Homo sapiens: one gene and its partners. The protein of the gene in region 5 purifies or fractionates together with the protein of the main gene of each other region. This does not show direct contact. Each region holds a gene or a part of one and is shown on either strand. Other genes may lie near its edges. The genes, in order: LPIN2, ZNF516, LZTS3, PPP1R3F, DYRK1B, KIAA0232 and AKAP11.

What was found.
Region 1: the proteins of DYRK1B (region 5) and LPIN2 purify together in Homo sapiens (affinity purification with mass spectrometry; 2 studies listed by BioGRID and IntAct, with this or other methods). This does not show direct contact.
Region 2: the proteins of DYRK1B (region 5) and ZNF516 purify together in Homo sapiens (affinity purification with mass spectrometry; 2 studies listed by BioGRID and IntAct, with this or other methods). This does not show direct contact.
Region 3: the proteins of DYRK1B (region 5) and LZTS3 purify together in Homo sapiens (affinity purification with mass spectrometry; 2 studies listed by BioGRID and IntAct, with this or other methods). This does not show direct contact.
Region 4: the proteins of DYRK1B (region 5) and PPP1R3F purify together in Homo sapiens (affinity purification with mass spectrometry; 2 studies listed by BioGRID and IntAct, with this or other methods). This does not show direct contact.
Region 6: the proteins of DYRK1B (region 5) and KIAA0232 purify together in Homo sapiens (affinity purification with mass spectrometry; 2 studies listed by BioGRID and IntAct, with this or other methods). This does not show direct contact.
Region 7: the proteins of DYRK1B (region 5) and AKAP11 purify together in Homo sapiens (affinity purification with mass spectrometry; 2 studies listed by BioGRID and IntAct, with this or other methods). This does not show direct contact.

What each region holds. Positions count from the first base shown.
Region 1 is NC_000018.10:2,936,290-2,940,186, forward strand, and holds part of LPIN2 (phosphatidate phosphatase LPIN2), read right to left. Parts: intron 3,315-3,897; coding exon 3,191-3,314; intron 1,749-3,190; coding exon 1,403-1,748; intron 1-1,402. UniProt on the Homo sapiens protein: Acts as a magnesium-dependent phosphatidate phosphatase enzyme which catalyzes the conversion of phosphatidic acid to diacylglycerol during triglyceride, phosphatidylcholine and phosphatidylethanolamine biosynthesis in the endoplasmic reticulum membrane.
Region 2 is NC_000018.10:76,435,863-76,439,759, forward strand, and holds part of ZNF516 (zinc finger protein 516), read right to left. Parts: intron 1-3,897. UniProt on the Homo sapiens protein: Transcriptional regulator that binds to the promoter and activates the transcription of genes promoting brown adipose tissue (BAT) differentiation.
Region 3 is NC_000020.11:3,166,781-3,170,677, forward strand, and holds part of LZTS3 (leucine zipper putative tumor suppressor 3), read right to left. Parts: exon of another isoform or gene 1,718-3,897; intron 1,525-1,717; exon of another isoform or gene 1,211-1,524; intron 1,182-1,210; 5' UTR 1,091-1,181; coding exon of another isoform or gene 1,019-1,090; 5' UTR 958-1,018; intron 402-957; coding exon of another isoform or gene 384-401; coding exon 1-383. UniProt on the Homo sapiens protein: May be involved in promoting the maturation of dendritic spines, probably via regulating SIPA1L1 levels at the postsynaptic density of synapses.
Region 4 is NC_000023.11:49,276,099-49,279,995, reverse strand, and holds part of PPP1R3F (protein phosphatase 1 regulatory subunit 3F), read right to left. Parts: exon of another isoform or gene 2,602-3,897; coding exon of another isoform or gene 2,468-2,601; intron 1-2,467.
Region 5 is NC_000019.10:39,831,123-39,835,595, forward strand, and holds the start of DYRK1B (dual specificity tyrosine-phosphorylation-regulated kinase 1B), read right to left. Parts: upstream 3,041-4,473; 5' UTR 2,901-3,040; intron 2,527-2,900; exon of another isoform or gene 2,224-2,526; coding exon of another isoform or gene 2,145-2,223; intron 2,058-2,144; exon of another isoform or gene 1,850-2,057; intron 847-1,849; coding exon of another isoform or gene 746-846; coding exon 683-745; intron 1-682. Other genes in the region: FBL (rRNA 2'-O-methyltransferase fibrillarin), read right to left, coding at 3,416-3,440, 3,546-3,691.
Region 6 is NC_000004.12:6,858,830-6,862,726, reverse strand, and holds part of KIAA0232 (uncharacterized protein KIAA0232), read right to left. Parts: intron 1,827-3,897; coding exon 1-1,826.
Region 7 is NC_000013.11:42,303,152-42,307,048, reverse strand, and holds part of AKAP11 (A-kinase anchor protein 11), read right to left. Parts: coding exon 3,186-3,897; intron 1-3,185. UniProt on the Homo sapiens protein: Binds to type II regulatory subunits of protein kinase A and anchors/targets them.

The DNA of each region.
Region 1 (3,897 bases), on a different chromosome or scaffold from region 5:
AAAATAGGATCCAAGGCCAGAGTTCAGAATATGTATGTTCTGACCCACTGTACCAAGTATCGATGGTTGGCTTTTTATTTTCAAATAGTAAGGATGTTCTGATTTATTAAACTTGTGTTCCAAAAGTGAGGAAGAACTGTTGAACCAAGAGTTGGATGTTTTCTCTACTTATTTTGAGACAGGGTCTCACTCTGTCACATGGGTTAGAGTGCAGTGGTGCAATCACAGCTCACTGCAGTCGTGACCTCCCTGGGCTCAGGTGATTAGAATAACTTCTTAAGGTAATTTTTATTTTTTCTTATTATTTTTGAGACAGGGTCTCACTCTATCACCCAGGCTGGAATGGAGTGGCTTCATCTTGGCTCATTGCAACCTCTGCCCCAGGGCTCAAGCGATCTTCCCACCTCAGCCTCCCAAGTAGCTGGGACCACAGATGAACGCCACCATGCCAGGCTCAGTTTTTTATGTTTGATAGAGACAGGGTTTCACTATGTTGCCCAGGCTGATCTCGAAATCCTGAGCTCAAGTGATCTGTCCACCTCAGCTTCCTAAGTACTGGGATTACAGGTGTGAGCCACTGCACCTAGCCTTCTACCTATTTTAGAGGGAAATAATCAGCAAAAGAAAGCACATACTCATAATCATAATTAGTATGCATTGATTTTTATCTGATATTACTGCTAAAAAACCTACCTAATTTAGCCTCAGCTAAGATGTTTCAAGTGAAAACATTTTTTCTCTATTCTAATTTTTTAAGATTCTACTTCACTTTACTGACATACCTTATCAATAAAGTGGTTAATTTTACTCATCAATTGATTACAACTCATTATTTGTTTTCTCAGTAAATGCTTCTCAAGAACCCACTGAGTAGCAACAGTCAAGAGACAGCAGTGTGCAAGTCAGGCCCTGCTCCAACTGGACTTTCCAGGGGGACGCCATGGAAAGCAATTGTAAGAAAGTGAGTGACGGGCCTGGGCACGGTGGCTCACACCTGTAATCCCAGCACTTTGGGAGGCCGAGGTGGGCAGATCACCTGAGGTCAGGAGTTTGAGACCAGCCTGGCCAACATGGTGAAATGCCATCTCTATTAAAAATACAAAAAATCAGCCGGGGATGGTGGTGTGTGCCTGTAACCCCAGCTACTCAGAAGGCTGAGGCAGGAGAATTGCTTGAACCCGGGAGGCGGAAGTTGCAGTTAGCCGAGATCACACAATTGCACTCCAGCCTGGGTAACAAGAGCGAAACTCCAGCTAAAAAAAAAAAAAAAAAAAAAAAAAAAGTGCGACGGGTTTCGACTGGTGAATACAAATACAGAGGCAGCCATCACGTTATGTGGAACACTGAAATAATTTACCATCTAATTTGAGAGTACCTGGAGCCAAATTAAACAAACGATTACCTTTCTTCTTTGACGGCGAGTCTACTTTAGCTGCCGGTTTGGATTCTGAGGGCGCCTCCGCTAAGGCTGCGTTGGGAAGGTGGTCAGCATCTAACATAGATGAAATCTGAGTACTCTCAAGAGGAGGTTCGAGAAGCTCTGCCACAGATGTTGGGTCGCTCATCTGTGTACCCAGGGCTCTGGGTTTGGGCTTCACTATGGTACAGACAGTGTCTTCCATGGAAGCATCCTTCTCAACTTCACTGATGAGGTTGTCCTCACTGGGAATTACCCGAAAATGAGTATTTTCTGATGGTGTAATTGTAGCTGTCCTAGGATGATGGTCAGATCGTTCTCTTTTGCTGACCTAAAAAAGTTAAATTGTTTAAAAATTAAACTACTTTCAGAGTATTTGTTATAATCTATTTCCTAAGCTGGCAATGTGTTCATTCTATTTTTAACTTAACACATTCATTAAGTATCTTAGTTTGTACATGTAAAAATTCCATAATAAAGTGAGAAAAACTAATAATTGCCTTTTGTTCAATATCATGATACTTATAAATGTTCTGGCCGGGCACAGTGGCTCACGCCTATAATCCCAGCACTTTGGGAGGCCAAGGTGGGCAGATCACTTGAGGTCAGGAGTTCGAGATTAGCCTGGCCAACAGGATGAAACCCTGTCTCTACTAAAAATACAAAAATTAGCCGGGCATGGTGGCAGGCGCCTGTAATCTCAGCTACTCGGGAGGCTGAGGCAAGATAATTTCTTGAACCCAGGAGATGGAGGTTGCAGTGAGCCGAGATGGCACCACTGCATTCCAGCCTAGGTGACAGAGCAAGACTTTATCTCAAAAAAAAAGGTGTACGTTAAATGTTCTACTGTGAAGTTATACTGGAGAAGACTGAGGAAACTGACAATTTTCAGTTACTAAGAAGTAGAAAATACTCATTTTGGGGGAGAAAACTAAATGAAAATTTCACCCTCCTTGGACCACATCAAGGCTCTGTTAAAACAGTGTAAAAGTGGCAAGTCTAAATTCGATCACAAATATATGCAAAATGTATATTTTAAAAACCTAAATTCAACAGAAGATCTAAACATTTTCTCTCTCAAGAAATTTATCTTCTCAGTTCTTTCTTCTTTCATTATGAGCTGGAAAAAAAGGTTTAACAATTTCTTGTTTAAAATTTCAGTGTTGGCTGGGGATGGCAGCTCACGCCTGTAATCCCAGCACTCTGGGAGGCCAAGGCAGGAGGATCTCTTGAGCCCAGGAGTTTGCGATCAGGCCAAGCTGATATAGCGAGACCTTGTCTCTACAAAAAATAAAAACTAAAAAATTAACTGGGTGTGGTAGCACACACCTGCAGTCTCAGCTACTTGAAAGTCTGGTGTGGGAGAATTACCTGAGCACAGGAGGTTAAGGCTGCAGTGAGTTGTGGCTGCACCACTGCTCTCCAGCATGGGTGACAGAGCAAGAACTCTGTCTCCAAAAAATAAAAAATAAAAATTCAGTGTGAAAATTTCAGTTTAAGATGCCTTTTAAAATGTCCTTATAATAATTAACAATCATTATTATTCAGTAAATAGAAATATACACAAAATACTACTGAAATCCTTCGGTTGCAAATATATAGTCCAAATGTTACAAAAAATGTTAACTTTGAATTTACTTTTATGACATGAGGGCACTATCATTTACATTCATGAGAGCTCAGTCAGAAATTGCCTCCTTTACTTATGGGCAGAGGAATTCGTCACTTGTTTAATCATTAACACACTTTCCACAGGCAAGTAAACCCTAGTACCTTGGTGGACTCTGGGAATCCGCCCCACGTCCACTCCATGTGAGACTCTGATCTGAGCAGGCTCTCCGCAGGTTTCACCTCCAGCTCTGAATCACTCTTAGGACACGCTGTCTGGGGATAGGTGCTGCAAAGAGAACAAAGACACACGATGACTTGAAAGTCGGGAAACCTTCAGTCTTGCTGAGCCTGACAGATTAAAAGAAACAAATCTGAATATCTTGACTTTATCCTGCATATATAAAAACTCTATGGAAGGGAGCATCAATTATTTCTTCCACTTGAGTTCTTTAATAATAATAATAAAAATGACACCAACTAGTATTTAAGAGGACTTACCAGGTCCTTTGTAAACAAACACTGTAGATTCATAATCTCATTTGCTTTTCACAAGAAATCAATGAGAAAGAAGATAATTTTGTAGGAAAGGAAAAGCAGGCAAATTAACATAACACCTGAGAATCTGATTGCAGAATAAACAGTTATGACTATACTTTTTTTCACTATATTATTCATTTACAGCCAACAGTTGACACTAAAAGATGAGAATTTTTAAGAATTGCAGATGAGTGGGCACAATGTCTCATGTCTGTAATCCCAGTGCTTTGGGAGGCCAAGGCGAGAGGATCACCTGAGGCCAGGAGTTCAAGAATAGCCTGGGCAAAATAGCGAGACTCTGTCTCTACAAAAAAATTTAAAACTTAGCTGAG
Region 2 (3,897 bases), on a different chromosome or scaffold from region 5:
AGATCCCACTCTGGTTTTGTTCTCTGGATGTTCTATGGCTCCTTTTGGTTAGGGAAAACACCCCAGGGAGCCCTGTCAGGCCTGGCATGGGCCACATGGCGGACAGTAGCTCTCACTTTTTGGGGGCACCTGACTTCAGGACAGCCTGTCACCCCTGCACTTCAGGAGCACCAGAGCAGTCTATGTGTGAACATTTATTAGATATTATGCAAGATGAGCCTGGGGCTGTGGCACGACGAAGGAACTGGGCAGAGCCCGGCCGAATGAACCTGTCTGGATACTAAGGGGGGCTGGCCTTCTGCTTTTTACCTTTACCCATTCTGCAAGCTCCTGTTTAATAGAGGGCCCCAATGCCACCAAGACCCCCTCAGAATGAGGACATCCCACAGCTCCAGGCCATGGAGTGGCGTTTGCCATGAAATTGTTCCCAGCCGTGTGTGCTTTCCTTCCCCAGCTGAACTGGATGCTATTTCCTGCCTACACTTGGAACTTCCCTTGATGAACGCACTTCACTCGTTTTCTCTCCTCCTTGGTCCACAACCTCTTTCTTTGAATCGTTTTGAGCCTCTCGTGGGACCCATGATGAACACTGTGTGAGGACAAGCGCTCCTCCCAACCCATGACTTGGCTTCAGAGAGAGCTTTGCCCGTGTTGCGTCCAAGCCAGGACACCGCTGAGTCCCCGAGAGACTCAGCATCGCGAGTGGATTCAGCTGCAAGGTCAGTGCGCGAAGGTATTGTGAGAGCTCCTCCTGCTCTACCTTGAAGAAACGCTTAGAAGAAGTACCATATAAAGGTTGCCCACACCCAGCAGGCTTGGCCGCACAGGCAGACACCCCTCCCAGCTCACCCCCTCATTCCATTCTCCCTTCCGCTGGCCAAATTCACCCTCAATCCTGTTTCAACGGGTAAACACATCCTCCAGGCCAGGTGCAGTGGCTCACACCTGGAATCCCAGCACTCTGGGAGGCTGAGGCGGGTGGATTGCTTGAGACCAGGAGTTCAAGATCACCCTGGACAACATGGCAAAACCCCATGTCTACCAAAAAAATACGAAAATTAGCCACGTGTGGTGACCGCCTGTAGTCCTAGCTGCTCTGGAGGCTGAGGTGAAAGGATGGCTTGAGCCCGGGAGGCGGAGGTTGCAGGGAGCTGAGATTGTGCCACTGCACTCCAGCCTGGGTGACAGAGCAAGACCTGTCTAAAACACACACACACACACACACACACACACACACATACCGTCTCTCACCCTCCCTAAGCTATTCTAATTGCTGTCTGTGTTCTATCAGAAAGAAAGAAGGACAGTTGTTGAACCTCTGTGCCCAGCCGCATGACTGCAGCCTGGCCTTCCTCACAGCCAGCGCACCAGCACGGACAGCCAGCCAGCCTCCAAGCACGTGCTCAGCAAACACCTTACAGCAAAAGCCTCAGTGCGCCTGGTGACAGTGGAAAGAAGATGGGCTCTGAGGACGGGGCTGCTGGGCGGCAGGGAGGCAGCCAGCGAGGGGACGGGAAACGTGAGACACTCTGAAGGTAGAGCCATTTCCTCCTTTAATTACCTTTCCTTCCCTTGACCATATTTTTTTTTTCTTTGAAGACTCTTTCCTTGATTCTTCAAATTGCATATAATACCAAGGCACTTGTTCCAAGCACTTTTTTTATTCTATTGAGTCATACAATTTGCCATTATGTTGATCAAAAACAGTTGAACACAATGGTCCTTTGTGGGACAGGGGTGACTGATTCCAGGACTCCCCGATACCAAAATCCAGGATGCTCAAGTCCCTGGTGTAAATGCCTGCGTGTAACCCACGCACATCCTCCCGTACACTGTAAATCATCTCTAGATTACTTATAATAATGCAATGTAAATGCTCTATAAATTCTGCTGTGTTGTTTAGGGAATAACAAAAAAAAGCCTGTATATGTTCAGTACAGATATAAACATCTATTTTTCTTTAATATTTTCAGGCTGTGGTTGCTTGAATCCAAAGATGTGGAATCCACGGATACACAGGGCCAACTGTACTTGTAACTTCCCACAACATCCTCTAAAACTTGAGGGTGTCCCATCTATTGAGTCGCAGTGAGTATCTAAAAAGTGAGGGTGGGTTCAACAGGATGGAGTATGGATTTTACATGACAGATATTAGCACGACAAGAAATGGTGAAAAGCGGGAGTAGTGAAATTAGTCTTGAATGATATGCAGCTCAACGGGGCACCGCTTGTGCATTATGAGCACCTCAGAGCATCCGCCATGGCCTGGGCACCAGGCATCCCAGTCCAGGCACTTCTCAGGATGGCACGAACTCTGACAGCAAATCTTCCAGAGATGTGCAGCCTCTCTGCATGCTTCTGTTATTCCTAAGTCGCCTAAATGCTTTCTGAGCAGAATTCTATTTTGGCCCATACACTGAAGGTTTGTATGTCTCCTTGCAAAGCAATATTCGTTTTTCCTTAGTGATGGTTTCTAAGCTCCCTGAGCCTACTTGTGTTTGGGAATGTTGGAAATGTTGATTTTTACAAACTCCAATTAGATGCCCTTTCACCCCTCTTTCTTACTAAAAATATTAACTTTTTATGAAGTCCAAAAGTAGACTTTCTGTCCATGCCACGTCTCTTTCTCAGTGGAGGATTTAAATCTAGTAACATATTCCCAATGACTGACTTTTTTTCCATAATTTTGCACTTCTACTATTTTAAGTCAATAACGAGAGCTGCTGTGACCAAGTCTTATGTGGGGATAAAAGTAACATGAATATCAGAACACTTTCCAGAGGAATAGATGGCAACATTCAACTGACGAAACATGTTCCATAAAAAAAAAGGAGAGGAGTTTCTTTCACTTAATCTAATAATGCAAATTATTTCCAGATCCAGAAACAGCATTCAAATCAATTCCCAGATGTCAAAGAAAATGTTCGGGCAAAATTATGGCACAACTGGGTATTACTGGAATGGTCGCATAGATCTGAATTCTAATTTCAACTGTGCTCCCACAGGCAGGCTGGCTGCTGCTTGTAAGAACCACTGTGATCTTTCGTTCCTCAATTCCCACACAGACACTCTAACAGTGTTAACCAATCATCCCATCAGAGTTCCATGAGAATTTAAAATAACCTAACACTTAAAGAACTAAGTAATCTTTTTAGTAACAGGAAAGGCAAGCATTTCCCAAAGTTGCGTGTATTTTTTCAGAAAAAGAAAGGAATGCTGCAGATTTAAATATGAGATTCAAAATACCCAGTTTCTTTTCCAAGCTAGCCCTGTGAAAGACCTGGGCCAAATCCCACAAATCACAGTGTTTTGAGAGTAGTTAAATCAATGGAACACGGTCTCTCTCTCCTTAAAGAATATCCATGAATTAGTAATTTGTTGCTACACTAGACCATTAAAGGCAGCTGTTGTGAGTGAAAAGTTGGTGTTTTTAGATAGAAAGATACTGTCCTTTGGGATTACGGAAAGTGACCCACATACACCTACAGGGCTCTTCCATGTTTCATGCCTCTGTCGAGCCATAAATTTCTGTCCTCTCTCAATAAGCTGAAATATCCTATTTATTCTATCACCAACTGTTTGTTACATTCAACTATGATACATGTCTTGTTATAGAATCAGCTGAGGTCTGTATTAACTTTCTCAAAAAGTTACACATAGAGAAAAATATATATAATGTCTTTAAGACATAAACAGTAGTCTCTAAAATTTAATGAGCCTGAAAAAAGAGTACCTTCCAATTTATGATGGGAATCATTTGATCTTTCCAACTTCTTGATTTCTAAAAGCACTACTGGATTAGCTTACTATGAATCAGGTGACCACCATCATAATCAATGGGGTGAGTGAGGCCCAAGAGCTTTTCCAAATATTAAGAATATTTCTCTTAAAAGTGAA
Region 3 (3,897 bases), on a different chromosome or scaffold from region 5:
CTGCCACCACTGCTGCTGCTGCCTCCGCTGCTGCCAACCACGTTGCCACAGACATCGGTGTGGTCACTGCCCCGCAGCTCACCATTGAGGTAGAGGGAGTTGGCGAGACCCTTGTCCTCTGAGGGGTAGCGGCCCGGCCTCTCCCTGCTGGCCCCACTGCCACTGCCTCGGGGGCCAGGGAAACTGCCCTGGCTGCCCCCACCCCCTGTGCGGGTACCCACGCTCTTCATGGCAAACTCCTGGGCATGGGCCACCCCACTGCCCACGCTGCCCATGGCCAGGCGGGGGTCCGGGGGTCCAAGCTCGGAGGGCCGTGGGGCAAAGGCCAGGAGAGGATCCCGCCCTGGGTCAGCGCGCACAGGCAGCGTCTCCAGCTTCGCCATGACTAAGCCAGGGGGGCACTGTGGGCACAGGTGGGAAGGCAGAGATAGGTAAGACCCTACTCCTATTCCCACCACCCCAGCCAAGTCAACCCGGCACCGCTCTGCCCCTCAGTGTCCCCTTCCCTACAATGGGTACAAAAAGTTCCCAGGCATCCAAGGTGAAGGAATAAGGCTGGGATAAAAGAGAGAACTTGGGAATGGGGGCTGCCTGTTGCCCACCTGATAAAGCCCAACCCCCAGGGCTCCATGCACATAGCCCCCAGCGTTGCTCAGCTCAGCTCAGCTCAGCTCAGCTCAGCGTTCCATTCCTAAACTTCTGCCTTAGCCCCACCTCCGCCATGAGCTTCCCAGGCTCAGTGACCCTCTCAACTCTTTGCTGCAACCCCAGAATTTTGGGGTTCTTTATCTTGGGTCTGGGACCCTAATATCCCAACCTCATGGGCTGGGGAAATGGGGTTGGAAGGGGAGAGCAGTACCTGAATCCAACAGGGAACCAACCTCAGAAATTAGGGGAGGGAGAGAAATACACCCCTATCCAAAAATTGAGGGTGGGGGTCCTTCCCAGCCCCCTAACCTAAGTGTTGCAGTCAGGGCAGAAGTGGAAGCTCACTACCAGCGCAGGCTTCTCTCCTTGCCTTTCCAAGGGGTTGAGGGGCCGACGGGTCCTCAAGCCTGGGACCCTCCGAGGCCCGGTCTGCAGGGGCCATGTGCCTCACTCTCGCAGTCGGGGCTCGGCCCGAACCAGCTGCGCGACTTTGGAGGGGCCGACTGAGCCATCCCGGACTGCAGTTTTCTCCTCTGCGAAATGGGAGGAATGAAGGACCTACCTTGCGGGGCTGCCGCGTGCCAGGCGCCCCGAGGCGGCGAGCGCCTGAGGAAACGGGGGTCTGGGGGAGGGTGGGTAGGCGACGCACATCTGGGTCGCGGGTGGGCGCCGCCAAGGGCACAGCCTGTCCCTCCCGGATGGACGGGGGCCGCGGCTGCAGTAGGTGGCAGGCCTGCCCTCCCCAAGGTCTTCCCAGCTCGGCCGCACCGGGGCCCTGGGAAGACAGGGCCCCCTTCCCGGGATCAGTCCTCCGCAGAGGTCCCAGGGCTGGCTGAGGCCGGGGCAGGGGACGCAGTGGCGCCAGCTGCTGGCACTGACGGAGCCTCTCTCAGGGCCTGCGTTTCCCACAGGTGGGAGGGGGGAGGGGAGGGGAGGGGCCGCTGCAGGGTGCGCGGCCCCAAGGATCCTGCGCCTGCCGAACCCCGCAAAGAATTCACTGCCACCAGGAAGACTTCCCGGATTACTACCCTCTCCCGCTCCCTGTGGACCTTGACCCTGCTCAGCTTACCGTGAAGCCCTCTGAGTCCTTCTGTGGGTGCGCGTCCCCCTCCCCCAAGGCCGGCCCACAAGCGCAGGGGGAGCCAGGCCTCGGGTTACCTGTGCTCAGGGAGGCCGTGCTTCCTCGTTCCTTTGTCTCAAGTTCGCACCTGGGAACACCTGCCCCAGAGATCTGCATAATGCAGCCGGGCAGGAGCACCAGGCAGTGTCTGCCTCGGGTTAGACCCTCAAATAAGTGTGTGGGAAATGGGAGAGGGCGCCCTTCAGGCCTTTTCCCACTACACCCTGCATAAACCAGGCAGGGAGCCCTCCTTCCCTATCAAGTTAAGGGGCCCACGTGGCACCCTATGGCCCCACAGACCGTCTTCTACCCAGATGCCCAGTTCTAATGCTGAGTCCCTGGCCCAGACCAAGGGCACCTGACAAAACTGTTGTCCTTCGGGAGTCTTCTGGCCCCCACACCAGGAATGAGAGCTCTAGGTTGTTGGAAAGTTCACTACCAAGCCTGTCCACTGTCTCTGTAGAATTCCATTCTCAGCATCTGTCCCCACAGGTGTGGAGAAGAGCACTTCGCCACCCTCCTCCCTTGGACCCGTCTGTCCCCATAAGCAAGGGCCAGGACTAGGATGAGGACAGAGAGCCACGTAGGGCACAAATGAAGGGCACAAACAGCAAGTACACAGCCCTGAGGGTGACAGCCTCCTTCCCTTTGTGCCTTGGGTCCCTCTCTGGCCTCACTCTAGTCCCTGCTCTGCCTCTACTCCCCAGCATACTCCAGCCCCCTATGCCTCAGCCCTGCAACCCCCTCCTACCTTAAGTATGGACCCTTCTCTTGCCACCTCTGGGTGCAATGTGGGGAGCAGCTGGGGACTGGGAGGATGAAGCCTGAAAGGCCTGAGGCTTGGAACCAGTAGGAAGGCCTGGGCAGGGTTTGGGAAAGAACTGGCAAAATTTCATACAGATGAGGTCAGGTGGTGGGGACAAGGGATAATGCTGGACTGGGCACCAGCGTGCGTGTGACACTGTTAACATGATAGGGGGAGACTGCTTGGGGAAAATAGTTGCTTTGGGAAACACCAGAGGAAGATACCTCTCAAGCACTAAATGGAGGCCAAGCAAGGTGGCTCATGCCTGTAATCCCAGCACTTTGGGAGGTCAAGGTGGGCAGATTACTTGAGGCCAAGAGTTCAAGACCATCCTGGCCAAATTGGTGGAACCCCATCTCTACTAAAAATACAAAAATTAGCTGGGTGCGGTATGCATTCCTGTAATCCCAGCTACTTGGGAGGCTGAGGCACGAGAACCCCCTTGAACCCAGGAGGCAGAGGTTGCAGTGAGCTGTAATTGCACCACTGCACTCCAGCCTGGGTGACAGAGCGAGACTCTTTCCTTAAAAAAAAAAAAAAAAAAAAAAAAAGCACTAGATGGAGAGAGATTGAGATCATCAGTTTTCAAGGGTGCTGGGGGTGTAGGCCAGCACTGAGCCAGGGAGCAAAGCCCCAGAAGTCTGGAAGGCACTCTGGGAGCAGGAAGAAGGCCAGGAGAAGGTGGGCCCTGAAGGCCAAGATTGGGGGGATTCAAGAATGTGGGGACAGTTTCCAGTGTTAAAAATAACAGGGCCAGGTAACACTGGGGTTGGAGAGTGTGCTGCGGATTTAGGAGCTGGTCTCGAGACATCACCAATGTCTATGTCAGAATGGTTTCAGAAAAGTGGTACAAGTGCCGGATGCGGTGGCTCACACCTGTAATGCCAGCACTTTGGGAGGCCAAGGCAGGCAAATCACTTGAGGTCAGGAGTTCGAGACCAGCCTGGCCAACGTGGTGAAACCCCGTCTCTACTAAAAATACAAAAAATTAGCTGGGCGTGGTGGTGCGCGCCTGTAATCCCCTACTCAGGAGGCTGAGGTGGGAGAATCACTGGAACCCGGGAGGCAGAAGTTGCAGTAAGCCGAGATCATGCCACTGCACTCCAGCCTGGAAGACAGAGCGAGACTACATCAAAAAAAAAAAAAAAAAAAACAGGTTGGCGCGGTGGCTTACGCTTGTAATCCTAGCACTTAGGGAGGTCCAAGACAGGTGGATCCCCTAAGATCAGGAGTTCGAGACCAGCCTGACCAACAGGGCGAAACCCTGCCTCTACTAAAAATACAAAAAAATTAGCTGGGTGTGGTGGTGCATGCCTGTAATCCC
Region 4 (3,897 bases), on a different chromosome or scaffold from region 5:
GACACACAGCTGGGATTGAATCAACTGTAGATATTTATGGGTCTTGCTCCTCCTTCACCAGGCCAGTCAGATCCCTGAGTGGCATAAGCCGAGTGCATTTCAGGTGGGTCCTCCCAGGGGTGGCATCTCATCATGGAGAAGTCACTGTTCTTATTCTGAAAATGAGTATCAAGTGTCTACAGATTAAGGTAAATGAGGGAAGCATTGACTAAAACCTGAGAGGAGCTGGGGCGAATGCCCACACCTTTTTCTTCCTAAGAGGCAATGTGACATTCTTGATACTTCTGACAATGGTTGAAAAATTTTTTTTTTTGAGATGGAGTCTCGTTCTGTCGCCAGGCTGGAGTGCAATAGCATGATCTCGGCTCACTGCAACCTCTGCCTCCCAGGTTCAAGTGATTCTCCTGCCTCAGCCTCTCAAGTATCAGGGATTACAGGTACCCACCATCACAGCCAGCTAATTTTTGTATTTTTAATAGAGACGGGGTTTCGCCATGTTGGCCAGGCTGGTCTCAAACTCCTGACCTCAGGTGATCCACCCTCCTCGGCCTCCCAATGTGCTGGGGTTACAGGCATGAGCCACCGTGCCCGGCCTGGTTGAAACTTTTTGAAAACCCATAACCAATTACCTTCACAGAAACGAGTATCACCATCTGACCCATACATAGTACCTACTATGGCATTACACACTGTTCTAAGTGCTTCACATTTTTTTAAAGAAGTTTTTGGGGTTTTTTGGTTTTTGTTTTTGTTTTTTTGTATTTTGTTTTTAGAGATGGGGTCTTCCTACGTTGACCAGGCTGGTCGTGAACTCCTGGACTCAAGCGATCCTCCCATCTCAGCCTCCCGAAGTCCTAGTACTACAGGCATGAGCCACGGTGCCTGGGCAACATGTGTTAATTCAATCCTCACAATCACCCTATGAGACAGGTACTTGTAATCCTCTGAAGCAGGCAGTACTATTGTCTCCATTTTACAGAGGATAAAACAGAGGCTGAGTAAATGGCTCAAGGTCATACACTTCACATCACAACCCAGGCCTTTTGGCTCTTACCCAGTCAGCTGCTGCTTCTTGGATGAGGGAGACTGGGGTCTTACCCAACCCATCTCCATCCTTTCTAGAAGTAGATAGAGGGAGGCATCAATACTAGACAAGATCCCTCCCTCCTCCTTCATGCAGGCTTTTCTTTGGACCTGCCTTTGCCCACATATTCATTCCCCATTTCCCTACCTCCATGGGCCTGGGACATGCGTGGCTAGGAGGCCACTAGACACAGAATGGCTGCAAGAACTGCTTTCTATAAACACCCTCGGGGAGAACATTTGAACCATATATACGGATCTAGAGTCTAGAAGGGACCGTCTGTCTTTCTCTACTGTCTAGGACTCACAAATCCCACCAGAGGTACTTGAATCAGAATACTACAGGGCCTAGGGTGGGTGACTCTGGGAGCCCAGCTGCCACCTCCCACACATCACAGATGAGAAAGAGAGATTCAGAGCAAACCAGCTTGGTCTCACACCAATCCCCTCCGTGGTCCTAAAATCCAGGTCTTTGGACTTTTGTTTCAACACAATTTCTGCCAGGCTGCACTAACTTACTTCTTTTTGTTACCATAGTCCTTCATGACAGAAAACATCCTCCTCCTAGGATCTTCTAAACCAAGCCTCTTCAAGAAGGCCCACAGACAGACAGAAAGCCAGCCCTCCCACCTGTGCGCAGTAGCAGGCAAGCCTTCTCCTCCATCTGGCCTAGTCCGGACATATATTACAAACAGGCTTCTAAAAGCCACTGCAGTCATAGATGTGAGACAGAAAAAGGAGAACACTCAGGAATCAGCTAGCCAGCAGGTAAAGGACTCCACAATTCAGTTGGAGGAAGGAGAAAGAAAAACAAATACACAATCAATCCTTCAGCCCCCAGAGCACCCTTTCCATGGCTGAGGAGGGCGAGAACATCCAAAAAGCAGGTCACGCCATTGAGCCAATCCCAAGATCCACAACATCGACAGAAGCAAACAAGTCGTTCTCCAAAGTCAGATATGAAAGCAGAAAGCACAAGCATGTATTGTTCACCTCCTCCACCATGGGCCCCTCTCATTGACACACCAAGGCATTTGAAAACCTTCACATCTATCCTTCAAAACAACACCCTTCCTTTTTACAAATGCAAAAACTAAAACTCAAGGAACTGCATCTCTACACTCACTGACTACACAACCACGCTGGTAACAAACACTCCAGGAGGGCTCCACTTTGAAGAGAGTTTGAAATTGTGGGCTTAAAAAGAAACAAGTTATCTTTGAACCGTCTTTCACAGTAAAAACTCAAGGGCAGCTATGACTTCAATCAACATGAGGATAGTAAGAGAAATCAAGTACAAATGTATACTGACTCACTGATCGGTAACAGAGAAGAGGGGTTCTTAGAAAAATGGGGAGGGAGAAGATTAAGAACAAAACTGTACCTGCAGTATGCCTGCTCGTTTTCAAGAAGGAAACCTGTTCTTTTGGCACCAGCCCCACAAGTACCACGTGGCATCCCCTCAAGGGCAGTGAGCCATAGGGGCCAGGGCACACAGATCTGGAAAATCTTGGACATGCATCATTTGGGTGCTAGTGAGCACTAGTCAAGCTGGTGTCGACTAAAAGGGGCCATCTCAGGCCTGCACGCCAGTCTCCTGGGCGTGCAAATTCCTCCGGCCATCAGGAAACACAATGGCTGCCAAGCTGATAGGCCCCGAGGAGACCAGAGGGTGAGGATTTGGAAAGAGGTGGTGTTGGCCCCGGCCTAGGCCAGCCAAGAAAGCCAAGAAAGGTGATTCGCCAGTCACAGAGTAAGCGAGCGGGTGAGGGCTGACAAGCCCTGTGGAGAAAAGCAAAGCAGACTTTCAGAGCAGTCACAGACTGCCATTGCCACCACCACCCGAGTCCTCTGGAGCACCCCCAGCATTCATGTTTTCAAAGAATTTTGCCAGCCCAAAGTGGGTCAGGCACTGAAACCCAAAGGGAAACTCAGCAGACCCCGGCTCCCATGTAGTCAACCTGAAGATAACGCTGACTTTCCGGGGGGATGAGTGGCTTCAGAAACCTGCCCCACGATACTCAGAATTGCAGTTACCCTGAGCCATCTGCTTTCTGAAAAGAACAGGGTTTGAAGGTGGCTGTGAAAGCCACCAAGTTATGTGGGGCACTGCTTTGCCTTCCCCAACAAGTGTGTCAGCCTCAACTCTGGGACTTGCGGGTGATCCAGTGGGGTAGAGGGAGAGCAGTTTCTCGTGCCATGAGCTTCTTCAACAGCCATGACTTCATTCTTTGGCCACGACCCATAGTAAGAAATCCATTCTACATCATAACCCAGCACACCCACACGTGTAAACAGACATATAAATAACTGAAAAATGGTTGTTCTTCGAGTGAAACAATACTTACCTTTACTGCATGTGGTGATACACTGGCATTTCTTATGCTATTTCCTTTTTCTTTTTAATGCTTGTTGAAACCCAGTAAATTGATTTCACAACTCAATAAAGGGTTAGGATATGCAATTTTGAACAATTCCAGCTCTGCCACCTATCAGCTGTGTGACCTGGGGCAAGTTACTTAACCTCTCTGTGCCTCAGTTACCTCATCTCTAAGGAGGGGATAATAATACCTACATCAGTGAGTTGTTCAGCAGATCAAAGAAATATTTGAAAAGTACCTATAAAGCACTTAACAGTAACCCCCTCCAAATTTCCATTGAGGGAAACTGAAGCTCTGAAAGGAAAGCAACTTGCCCAGTGTTGCCCTGCTGGTAAAATGCATCACCCAGCCTGGTACAGTAGCTAAGAGCTGGAGCACTAGAGCAGGACCACACAGGCTCAGATCCCAGCTCTGCCACTTTCTTAGCACGTGG
Region 5 (4,473 bases):
TGAAGCCAGCCATTTTGGGTACCCTCTGAAGTACCTCTATCTCAATTTACCCTCATCCCTTGGGCCTCAACCCATACTCCCACCAACTCTTTGCACAGTTCTTTCACCCCAAGGCTCTTGGATCTGGATCTGGCCCCTGGACCTCCCACTTCATCCTGCTTCAAGCTCTGCATGTCACTGCCTTCACTGCCTCTAGCCTTGGGAGAGCTTTGCCCTCACCACCCATGCCTGTTGGCCTCAAGACCCTTTAGACTCAACCCCCCTCCAAATTCACCCAATCCAGATCTTTCACTCTGAACTTTTCTTAGTAGCATTTATTGGGTATTTACTATGTGCCAGGCACCATTCTAAGTGTTTTACATGCATACCATTAACTCATTTAATCCTCACAACAACCCTGTGAAGTAGGTATCATTATTGGCCCCATTTCACAGAATGAGTTGAGTTCTCCAACTCAAGTATGGAGAACCTAAGGAATTTAACCACTGGGTCAGGATTTGAACCCAGCCTCTCCAAACCCTGACTCTGCCTGAAAACTCCTCTGTTATTTTCCAATCCCATGGGACCCATTATGTGCCCAGAAGAATGTCTTGGGCAACCACACTACCTTTTGGTCTGGAGACCTTTCTATCCCCAGCCTCCCCCTACCACCACGCAGGTGAGGAGCCAGCTGAACGCGTACCTGCGTGTGCTCCTGGGGCCCTGGGAAGCCAGAGAAGGGACCATGGCCCGGTGGGACGGCCATGGTGGGCTCAGAGGGCCGCAGGGGAGCGAGGCCTGGAGCGGGAGCCCGGCCGGGGGGCGCCTTCTTGCATCCTGCACCTCGGCTGCCACCGCCGCTGAGACCTGAGAGCAGACAGGAAGTGGGAAAACAACATGGAACAAGGGGATATGTGAATAGTGCCAGGCGGGGAAGAGTGGACATGAGAAAGACAGGGCACAGAGAGAAGAGGAAAAGGGCACAACGGAGCAGCAGATAGCAATGAAGAGAAGGGGCAGAGAAGTGGTAGCCAGGTGGGGGGGGATGGCACAGCAGTCCCTCGACAAATAATGATCAAGTAAATGATTAAGGCAGCACAAAGAGAACACATAAAAGACAATGATTGGGGGCCAAGCAGGGGTCGATATGAGCCATCACAGGGAAAGGAGGACAGGAAGACACCAATAATTCAGAGGAGGAAAAGAAAAAAGAAACCACAGACAGTATGCAGAGGAGTAGGCTTCATTCTTTTCTCACTACTCGTGGCCCTCCCCAGGGCCCCTAACACAAGATGCCACTTTCTGTAGTCTTCCCTGAACATCAGGATCTCAGCCCGTAGCACAGCCAGGGCCAATACTTTAAGATCTATCCTTCTCAGTAGATTCCCTCAACCCAGAGAACTCTAGGATTCCCAAACCACATGAGTCTTCCCCTCCCAAACCACAGCAGAGTCCTCTGCAGCCCTAAAACCACATCAGCGTCCTTGGGGACCTCCCAACCACACCAAAGTTATCTGAGAACCTCTATAGAACAGAGTCCTATCTCTACAGCATTCTCATCCACCAGGGCACGATTTTCCTAGGGGACCCTCTCCATATCATGCCAAGACCGCTTCCCTATTTCAGGTCCTCCATATTAGGAACCAGCCTTCCAGGTAGTCTCCCTGTACCATATCCCAATTCCCCCTACCACAACAGGGTTCTTCCCCATATTACTCCAATATCCCATCCCAATCAAGGCCCACTCCTCCTGATGGGAGAAGGAGGAGGTGTCTCTTCCCACAGTTTAGAGTGATCATCCTTTTCTCCCCTACACTGCTTCCTTGCCCCCCTACACACACACACACACCCTAATATTCCTACCACAGACCTTTCTCCAGGCACCCCTCTTTATACCAGGGTCATTCCACAACTGTGTCCACTCCTAGAGGGCCTCAAAGTCAAATCCCCAAGTTATCACATAGGGTTCTCTCCTCCCAGAGTTGTCAGCTACAGCAAAAATCTTCTCCCCATGGGCCACTCTCTCCCCCATGTCAAATCCCTTTCTCCTATTCCATGCCTTGCCACTCCACGACTCCTCCACCCTTGGAGCTTCCCCCAAAAAACCACCTCTTCTCCGGGGCCCTCCCACACCAGGATCATCTCTCCCAGCCCCCACCCCCTACCCGGGTCAGGGCTGGCGCGGGGCCCACGGGGGGCTGGGGCGCGGTGGGGCCCCCAGTGGGGTGGGCGAGCGGCCAGCATGGCGGCGGTGGCGGCGCTGAAAAGGCGACCGCCTGTCTCTGGCCCGGCCGGCCCCGCGGCGGGGAGGGCAAGCGGGACAGGAGGCCCGGTGGGTGACAACAGCAGCCGCCACTGCCACCGGGGGCGGGGAGAGGAGGGGACAAGGGTCAGCCCAGGGCACGCGGGGGAAGAGTAGAGCAGGTGGACGGGGGAGGGGCGACACGCCCCACCCTGAGTGACCACCAGCCCCTAGGGACCCGGCGTCCCGCCCCCCACCCAGGAGGCCCTCCTGGGCCTGCTGAGACCGGAAGGCGGGGCCCGACTGAGCTTGGCAATCGGCACCTGCCATGGCAACAACTGTACCATTGGTCGCTGGTGCCAAGAGCTCAGCCAATCACAGCCTAGGGCAGCTGTTGCTAGGCGACGAAGAAGCGGCCCGCGGAGCTGAGCCCAAACAAAGGGCGGGAGTGGGGCCCGGCTACCCCCTCCCAGCCTCCCTCCTGCAACTGCTTCCTCGGGCTTGGCCGGTTCCAGGAATTCAACTATGAATAGCCAGGCAGGGCCCGCACCTGCCTGCCACCCCCCTCCTCTCCTCCCTTGGCCTCGTGCTAAGTCTCACGGCGACGGGAGCAGGGCGGATCCCGTCCTGCCCACCTCCCTGCGACCGCTTGCCGCCCCACCCGTCCCCGCGCCGTTACCTGAAGGAGCGGGCAAGGGGACTCAAACTGCTCGGGGAGCCCGAGCTCAGACCTGCCCACTGGCTGAGGGTATCCGGCGGACGCGGCAAGCCAGGGCCCCGATTACCCAGTAATGCAACCAGCAAAATGGCGACCACAACAAACCGGCCCCCCCACGCCCTGGACTCCGCCCCCATCCCTCCCTCTCCGCTCCCCTCACGTGACCCACACTGACACTCCGCCTGCGCGAGATGGCCGCTTACCTGCACGCATGCGCAGCGAGCTACCAATCCCACCCAAGAACCGAAATCCAGGCTGCCGCTGCGCAAAGGCAGCTAGAAACGGAGCATGCGCTCTGTGACCGAGTGAGAATTTACCCAACCCCGCAAAATTGACCAAGGGTGCGTGCTCCCTGTGTCAGCAGGTCAAGGGGAGGAATGAGCAGCAGACATGGGAGACGGATGAGTCTTTTAATAGAAAAACACACGTGCAACAGTATCAACACACATCTCTCGCAATCCTGACAGCGCTGAACTTCAGTTCTTCACCTTGGGGGGTGGCCTGTGAGAGGAAGATAGGTGATGAAGGAGGGTCCCCAGGATCATGGCACTCGGGGTGCAAGGGACAGAGATGTCTGTCTTGGTGTATTGCTGGGCCCCTGCTCACCTGTACACTCCCACGACCACGGCATGGTCTCTTTCATATGGCTCAAGGGTCAACTGCTCCTGCGGCTTCATGTTCTCCTGTTGCATCTTTTTCACTTCGGAGGCAAACACGGCCTCGGCTGAGGCTGTGGAGTCAATGCAGTTGGCCTAAAGAGGAGAAAGGACTAATGTCTACAACAGGGCTTTGGGCTGTTTTTCTCTTGTGTGCTCTTTAAACCAGATGTTTTCATTATTAATTCAAGTAAAACTCAGTGCTATGGTTCTAGTGTGTCCCCCAAAGTTCATGTGTTGGAAACGTAACCCTTAAATGCAAGAGTTGAGAGGTGGGACCTTCGAGAGATGATTCAGGTCATGAGGCCTCTGCCTTCCTGAATAGAGTAATGCTATTATCACAAGAGTGGGTTGCTGATTAAAAGGATGATTATGCCCCCTTTCTATCTTGCTCTCACCCTTCTGCCAATGGATGACAGCAAGAAGGCCCTCGCCAGATTCAGACCTCCAATCTTGGACTTTCCAGCCTTTGGAACTGGGAGCCAAATAAATTTCCATTCATTATAAATTACCCAGTCTAAGGCTGGGCGTGGTGGCTCACGCCTGTAATCCCAGCACTTTGGGAGGCCGAGGTGGCTCAATCACGAAATCAGGAGATTGAGACCATCCTGGCCAACACGGTGAAACCCTATCTCTACTAAAAATACAAAAATTAGTCGGGTGTGGTGGCGCACACCTGTAGTCCCACCTACTCGGGAAGCTGACGCAGGAGAATCGCTTGAACCCAGGAACTGGAGGTTGCAGTGAGCCGAGATCGTACCACTGCACTCCAACCTGGTGACAGAGTAAGACTCCATCTCAAAAAAATAAAAATAAAAATAAAAATAAATAAATTACCCAGTCTATAGCATTCTGTGATAGCTGCATAAAATGGGCTA
Region 6 (3,897 bases), on a different chromosome or scaffold from region 5:
AAACTAATGTAGGAATCTCACCTAAAGTTCTACTGTTTTGCTGGCAAGTTTCATCTTGCAAAAAATCTAGAAGTTCTTCATCTACATAATTTGACGAGACTCTAGGAACTACATAATTAATATCTTCGGCATTAAACTGTGTGGATTCTTCAAACTGAATATTTAATGTTTCATTGTCTGAACGTGTTTCTTCTGAATGGGACCATGGACTACAAGTTCTTGTTGAAAGATTAGAACAGTGTTCATTTTCTTCAAAGGCACTATTTTTGGTCCATATTAGCAATCTAGACTGTGTTTTCCCAAGCATATTAGCACTAGAATCTGTATTTTCATTTCCCAAGTTGAGTGTTTCAAAAGAAAATGGTAAAACAGAATTACTGCATTGCACTTCAAACACTGAAAAACAAGAGTTTATACCAGATCCTTCATTAATATCTGAAAAGAGCTCTTGATTGCCAGCAAGCAGGTGTGAATTGAGCACTGTGCTGTCTAAGATGGGAGAGAGTCTAACTGGAGAGTCTCCTCCAAAACTCTCCCCATCAGCATCACCGGAGCTGGATGAACAGCACTCCCAAAACTGAGCCAGATTGCCAAGGTCCTGCAGGAATAAGCCCTCAGCACCTACGGAGCTGGTAGAATCTGTCCATATTGCACGTTCCCCTTGCAACTCCATACCATCTAACACTATGCAACATTCTGCCTCAAAATCTGTGTTCTCTTTGCTTTTCTGTCGAATCATATTCAAAATCCGACTTTCTCCTTGCATTGTTTCTGAGGCACCAGGATCCAACATGGATTGATCAATATCCACTTCATAGAAGTGCGTTAATTCTGATAGATGAATATCATCCAGGTATTTATTGTCCTCTGGTAGAGAACATAATGAGGTCCCAGTGAGGTCAATATCCTCATTTATAACTGCAGGCATTTCTACAAAATGACCATCAATGAAAGTACCTGCTGCGAGGTATGTTTTATGAAGATTATTGTTGCTGATACAAAGACCATGCACTGATTCAGACAATTCTTCCACTGCCTCTGATGTCAGATCACTTGTATCCTGTCTGTTTCGGTATGTGGTCTCTAGTTTACTTTTTCTGCTCAGAGGAACAAAATATTCAGCAATTGGCTCGGTGTACCACAAGGGCTCCTCTTTATACTCTGTGTCCTTTCTATTCTCCATGTACAGGTCTTTTCCTTCAGTGCTCCCAGGATCTTTTCTCCCTATTTCTTTTAAAGGTCTCTTACCCCGCTTGCACAGCTGTTTGACAGAACCACTGCTGCTACTGCTACTACTTCCAGTATGAATGTTCCTTTCAGCCTTTTCACCGTGCTTCAAAGAAAGCCTGCTTTGCCCATTCCGCCCTTTTTTGTTTCGAATCTCTCGTGCCTTGTGTCTTACTTTAACATACTTCATGGATGCTTTTAATTCTCCCTGATTCCCACTGGAACTTGAGCCTGCTTCACTGGAGCCAGAAGACCACGAGCGAGGGCGAATCTTTCCTTCAGGTTTATGTCGGATTTGCTTTTTGTACAAAGCAGGCTTTTCTTCAATTGTGCCATTACTAAATTTGTTTTCCTTCTCGTTTTTGCTTTTGCTCTGGGTTTTCTCATGCACAGTGGTGGGTACTTCACTGCTTCTTTCCTTGGTGACTTCACTTTCACTGTTGCAGTCCTTAGGAGAGGAAGTATCTGTGCTAGCTGGTGGGGCTGTGGATGATGAAGAAGAGCTAGAGTAAGAACAGACTTTAGACTTGTTCCACACAGTCATGATTTCTTGCAGGCAAACTGGTTTCTCAGAAAGTGGTGGAAATGCTTCATAGTACCTGAAAAACAGAGTAAAGACTTCAAAACACGAGTATGCAGATTTTTTAGATACAGTAAAACAACATTACCAACCAGAAGAATGGAATATTTCATTTTAGTAGTGTCAACATTCACATCATCCAAGAATCATTAACTTTACAATAATTTATAATACAGTAAAATATGCTTAAGATTAGTCCCATGCATCAAGCACCATTTTGCTCAGCACTGTGATACGCACTGTAAGATTACTGAGAAAATATGTAAGATGACAGTTTTTATCTTCAAAGTTTGCATTTTAATTAAGAAGTCAAAAAGGACAAATAGTAGAAGAAAGAATGCAGTCTCTTCAGTAAGCATTATCTGAATTTGAATCTCAGCTAAGTCACTATTGCTTGCGACTTTAAGCTCATTATTTACTGCTTCAGACTATTTCCTCAACTGCAAAATGGTGATCCTATGACTTACCTCCCAAAGTTATTGTGAGCGTTGAAAATATATGCGGTTAAAAAGCTCGGTAGCAATCAGTCAAGAGTATGAGCTCTGAAGCCACATTCTCTGAGGTCAAATCCTGGCTCTGCCTGCTTTACTAGCTGTGTGACCTTAGGCATGTTACTTAACCTCTCCATAGCTCAGTTTCCTCACCTACAAAATAGAGCTAGTAATATTTACCTCTCAGGGTTGTGAGGAGTAAAGGAATTAATATGCAAAATGAGTTGGAACAGCAGCTTCTTACGTAACTGCTAGCATACTGCCTGGCATTGAAGCAGGCCCTCAGAAAGGGTAGGAATGATCACATTCAAGTATTCAGAAAGAGGATGTCGGTGAGGCCTACAACAATTAAAGTGGGCCACAACTGAGCCTTGAAATTCCAGATTTATTCCACAAGTTTAGTGAGTACTACCTGTGAGGCCTGAGAGCCTGTGTGAGGACACCAAGACACACATGTTATGCTCACAGAATGGAAAACTAACTAGAGCTGTGATCACCAGAAATGCAGCGTAGAAAAAGCCAGGGAGGCTGGTTTCAGGGGGCTTGAAAATGAGAAAGTATTTTTGATTTGCTAGGAAACTGGGGGCCACTGAAGATTTCAGAGCAGAACAGATTGCAAAGGGCAGAATTTAAAGTCACATTGGCTACTGGGGACTGTTGTTTCAGAGGCAATGCTCAAGGTCACACATGAAGTGGTAAAAGGCCATGTTTTCAAAGGGCCTGAACTTGATTCTCTTTCTCAGTCTATGTCAGAGTTGACCAACAGAAATATATTTTGAGCTTCATATGTAATTTTAAGTGTTCTAGTAGGCACATTAAAAACATAAGAAATAGGTGAAATGCACTCCAGTAATATATTTAACTAAACTCCTGATATTATCATTTCAACATGTAATCAATACTTTAAAATGTTTAATACTTTACTTTTTTTTATATATAGTCTTTGAAATCCAATGAGAATTGTCCACTGACAGCACATCACGGTTTGAACCAGCCCCATTTCAAGTGCTCAGTAGTCACACATGGCTTACAGCTTCTGTGCTGGATAATACAGGTCTATACAAACCAAGGAAATGCTATTTTTTTCTTAGGTTTCAGAGGTTCGAAAGATTAAAATAAAATGTATAATAGGGAAGTCTGTTTATAATGCAGATTATTTTAAGACTATTTACGAACAAAAAAATAAAAGTATCTTTAGGAAGCAGGTTTGGCAGGTCAAGGATTGCCTATGTTCCCTCTGCAGTAAACAGTGGGAACTCAGTGTTCTTGCTTGTGAACATGGATAATCATTTCTTTTCTTTCTTGTTTTTTTTTTTTTTTTTTTTTTTAATAAGACAGAGTCTCGCTCTGTCGTCCAGGCTGGAGTGCAATGGCACAGTCTCAGCTCACTGCAACCTCTGCCTCCCGGGTTCCAGAAATTCTCCTGCCTCGGTCTCCTGAGTAGCTGGGATTACAGGCATGTACCACCATGCTCAACTAATATTTGAGACTGGGTTTCACCATGTTGACCAGGCTGGTCTCAAACTCCTGACCTCAGGTGATCCACCTGCCTTGGCTTCCCAAAGTGCTGGGATTACTGACATGAGCCACTGTGCCCGG
Region 7 (3,897 bases), on a different chromosome or scaffold from region 5:
GTTATTTTGGCTCGGAATGATAGCTTAGAATATAATCGTTTTGTTGGCTAAAAATGCACTATCAGCCAGGCACGGTGGCTCATGCTTGCAATCTCAGCACTTTGGGAGGCTAGGGCAGGAGGATTGCTTGAGCTCAGGAATTCAAGATCAGCCTGAGCAACATAGTGAGATCTCATCTCTACAAACAAACAACAACAAACAAAAATGAATAAAAATGTACTATCACATAATTTCCCAATTGCATTCACATGCCACCTCTCTGTTCATTACAGTTTGTGAAATATTTATGGTCATGTTCATGAATCAAACAAAAAGGGACATCAGGTGAAATAATACCTTAAAGAATAATCCATCTGAATGAATCTCCTTTCAAGTTTGAAAGACAAATTTAACTTTAGAAATAAAAAATGTTAAACGTAAACTCTACACACTAGAGTCAGCTTTCCTTAGTCAGTATTTACAGAACCCTAGCACAATTATTAAGAAGAGAAGCAGGAAAATAATTACTCCAGCCTTAATAAAAAGCTGAAATTGGACAGCACTGGCTTACAGGAAGAACTTTAGGGGCTATCTACTCACCCAACTCTAAGAAGGAAAAGTGGAAATTACTGAGAAAATCAATAACAAAGGCATTTGCTAGCCCCTGAGAGTGATGTCTTAAAAACTTTAGAGGACAGTCTCTTTTCTTCCCATGAGGGTGGGAGGAAAGGGGGATGGATGGGTCCGTAGGGCAGACAGGACTGAACTGAGGAGGAGTAAAAAGTAAAATAGCCTGAAGCAACCTGTATGAGGAAAATTATTTCAATTGTAAAAAGGCCTAATTTATTACCTATTCATGAGAATATTTATTAACAATTTATTATGTTTATTATCATACTAGGAACTGGTATGTAGTGAAAACGAAAATGTGGATCTAGGACAGAGGTTCGCAATTGTTTTCTGTAAGAGGCCATGATATGGTTTGGCTCTATGTCCCTACCCAAATCTCATCTCAAATTGTAACCCCCAGGGAGGGACCTGGTGGGAGGTGATTGGATCATGAGGGCGGCTTCCTCCATGCTGTTCTCATGACAGTGAGGGAGTTCTCATGAGAGCTGATGGTTTTAAAAGTGTCTGGCAGCTCCCCCTTCTCTCTCTCTCCTGCTGCCTTGTGAAGAAAACACTTGCTTCCCCTTTGCCTTGTGCCATGACTGTAAGTCTCCTGAGGCTTTCCCAGCCATGCAGAACTGTGAGTCAATTAAACCTCCTTTGTTTATAAATTACTCAGTCTCAGGTGGTATCTTTATAGCAGTGTGAAAATGAACTAATACAGGCCAAACAGGAAGTACATAGGCACTGCTGGTCATACAGCCTCTGTCCCAACTACTCAACTCTGCCATTATAGCACAAAGGCAGCCACAGAAATGTGTAATTGAATGAGCATGGTGGTGTCCCAATAAAACTTTATTTATAAATACTGAAATTTGAATTTCATATAATTTCCACATCACAAAATATCATTTGATTTTTTTCAACCATTAAAAAAAAACATGAAATCTGTTCTTAGCTTGCAGTCCATACAAAAACAACCAGTAGGCCACATTGGCCCACAGACTGTAGTTTGCCAACCCCTGGTCTAGGAGAAAGAAGGCTGCCTGATTAGGGCAAATAGAGACCTCTCCTAGTTCACCAGAAACCTACATCATCTCTCATCTCAAGTAGACGCTATGGAGCAATTGGATTCAAGAATCCTGGCCAAGCTATATCTCCCTATTTTAAGATGGATAAGAAAAGAGGCAGACCATGTCATGGCTTTAACAGAAGCTACTCAAAAATCTGGAATATCATGTGACTCAATTAAATTCCACCTCAACTTAAAGCATTTTCTCTTTCAAGCAGGACTTACAAATATCATCCTATCAACTAATAACACAAGTTGGTCCTGATATCTTCTCAGGGACAAAGAAGGTTTAAACTGAAAAACTGTAACTAAGTTGTTATTAAAGAATCACTGAGCATGGCTGGTTGCGGTGGCTCACGCCTGTGATCCCAGCACTTTGGGAAGCTGAGGTGGGCAGATCACCTAAGGTCAGGAGTTCAAGACCAGCCTGGCCAACTTGGTGAAACCCTGTCTCTACTAAAAATACAAAAATTAGCTGGGCGTGGTGGTGGGTGCCTGTAATCCCAGCTACTAGGGAGGCTGAGGCACAGGAATCGCTTGAACCCGGGAGGCAAAGGTTGCAGTGAGCTGAGATTGTGCCACTGCACTCCAGCCTGGGCAACAGTGCGAGACTCCATCTCAAAAAAAAAAAAAGAATCACTGAGCACAAGAGATAGCTACTGAAAAACAGGACACTGTAGGACTACCAGAAAGAACTGTCCTCTTAGATTGTGAACCAATCAAGAGAAATGGTGTAAGTATGTAAAGAATTTTCACTTTCTTCTTCAGAGTAGTTTAACCATGGTCTTTATAAGAAAACTTACCCTTGTGAATGAAGAAAGGTGTACAAAAATTTAATCTCAGAATAGTAAATTAATATAGTAATATTCTACATTTACTATAGAATAGTCCCCCCTTATCCATGGGGGATATGATCTAAGACACCCAGTGGATGTCTGAAACTGCAGATAGCATCAAGCCCTGTACATACCAGGTTTGTGGACCTGATAACTGAGATACCTTCTAAGTGACTAACAGGTGAACAGCACATGTAGTATGGATAAACTGGATAAAGGGGTAATTCACATCCTGAGTGAGATGGTGTGAGACTTCATCATGCTACTCAGAACATGCAACTTAAAACTTACGAATCGCTTATTTCTGGAATTTTCCATTTAACATTTTCAGATTGAGGAAAGCAAAATTGAGAATAAGGGGGGACTACTATATAAAATTCTCTAGCTATTTATTTAATTCAACTTTACCTATTTCATAGCTCTATGAACTTGGATAAGGTGATTATTTTCTCCAACCCTCATTTTCCAGCTCTGTAAATGGATAACACCTTCCCTCAAAAGGGATCAGGAGACCAAAATATATTAAAGTCATGTGTAGGATATGAAACAATACATAAATGCAACAGGGAAAACTTTTGTTTATGTAGGGTTAAAAATAATCATTCCTTTATGAACAGGACCTAAGACATATAGGATCACATTTATCTTTTTAATTTATCATTAACAACCAAAAGAAACGTGAAACTTACCTGCTAACAGCATGCCCAACATTTGTGACAGCTGCTGTCATGGTTTCTGTGGCAAGGCTTTCAGCAAAGCTGGCACCCTCCTGTCCGATCCCACTGTCGGCTGCCAGGCTGGTACTGCTCAGCTCTCGCTCAGCTTTTTCAATGGCTTCAGCAACTATCTTCTCAGCAAGCACTGCCTTCTTATCAAGATTAACATGAATCTGAGGGACACTGAGATGAAAAATCCTAGATTTCTGATAGCGGCTGCTAAATTTTGGATTAGAAGCTGGCTTACTACTGGCGAGAGAACCCTGTCTGAAAAAGTGCTGAGATGAATTTCCAGTGCAATTGTGGAGTTCTTTAAGGTCACAGTATCTGCAAGCTTGACCTGTAAGAGGTGACAACTTTTCTGCATAAGTGACCCTGTCTGCTGATTTTGTGGTCTCAGACACTCGGAACACTGTAGATCCTAGAGTTAGCTCTAGAGTGTCATCCACTACTTTTTTGGCATACTGTTCTACAGCTTGAACAACATTGTCTCCACAACCATATCCATTTAAACTGCCAGTGCTGTGGTAAAACCTGTGATTTTGTGAGGAAGGCTGAAGAGACTTAGGCAATTCTGGTGTAACGTGACACTCATTATCTTCTTCATATCCAGATTTTTCAAACAAGCAAGAATCTGTTAAGGATTTTGGTAGGCCAACTAGAGAGGCTGTCAACTCTTCCTTAG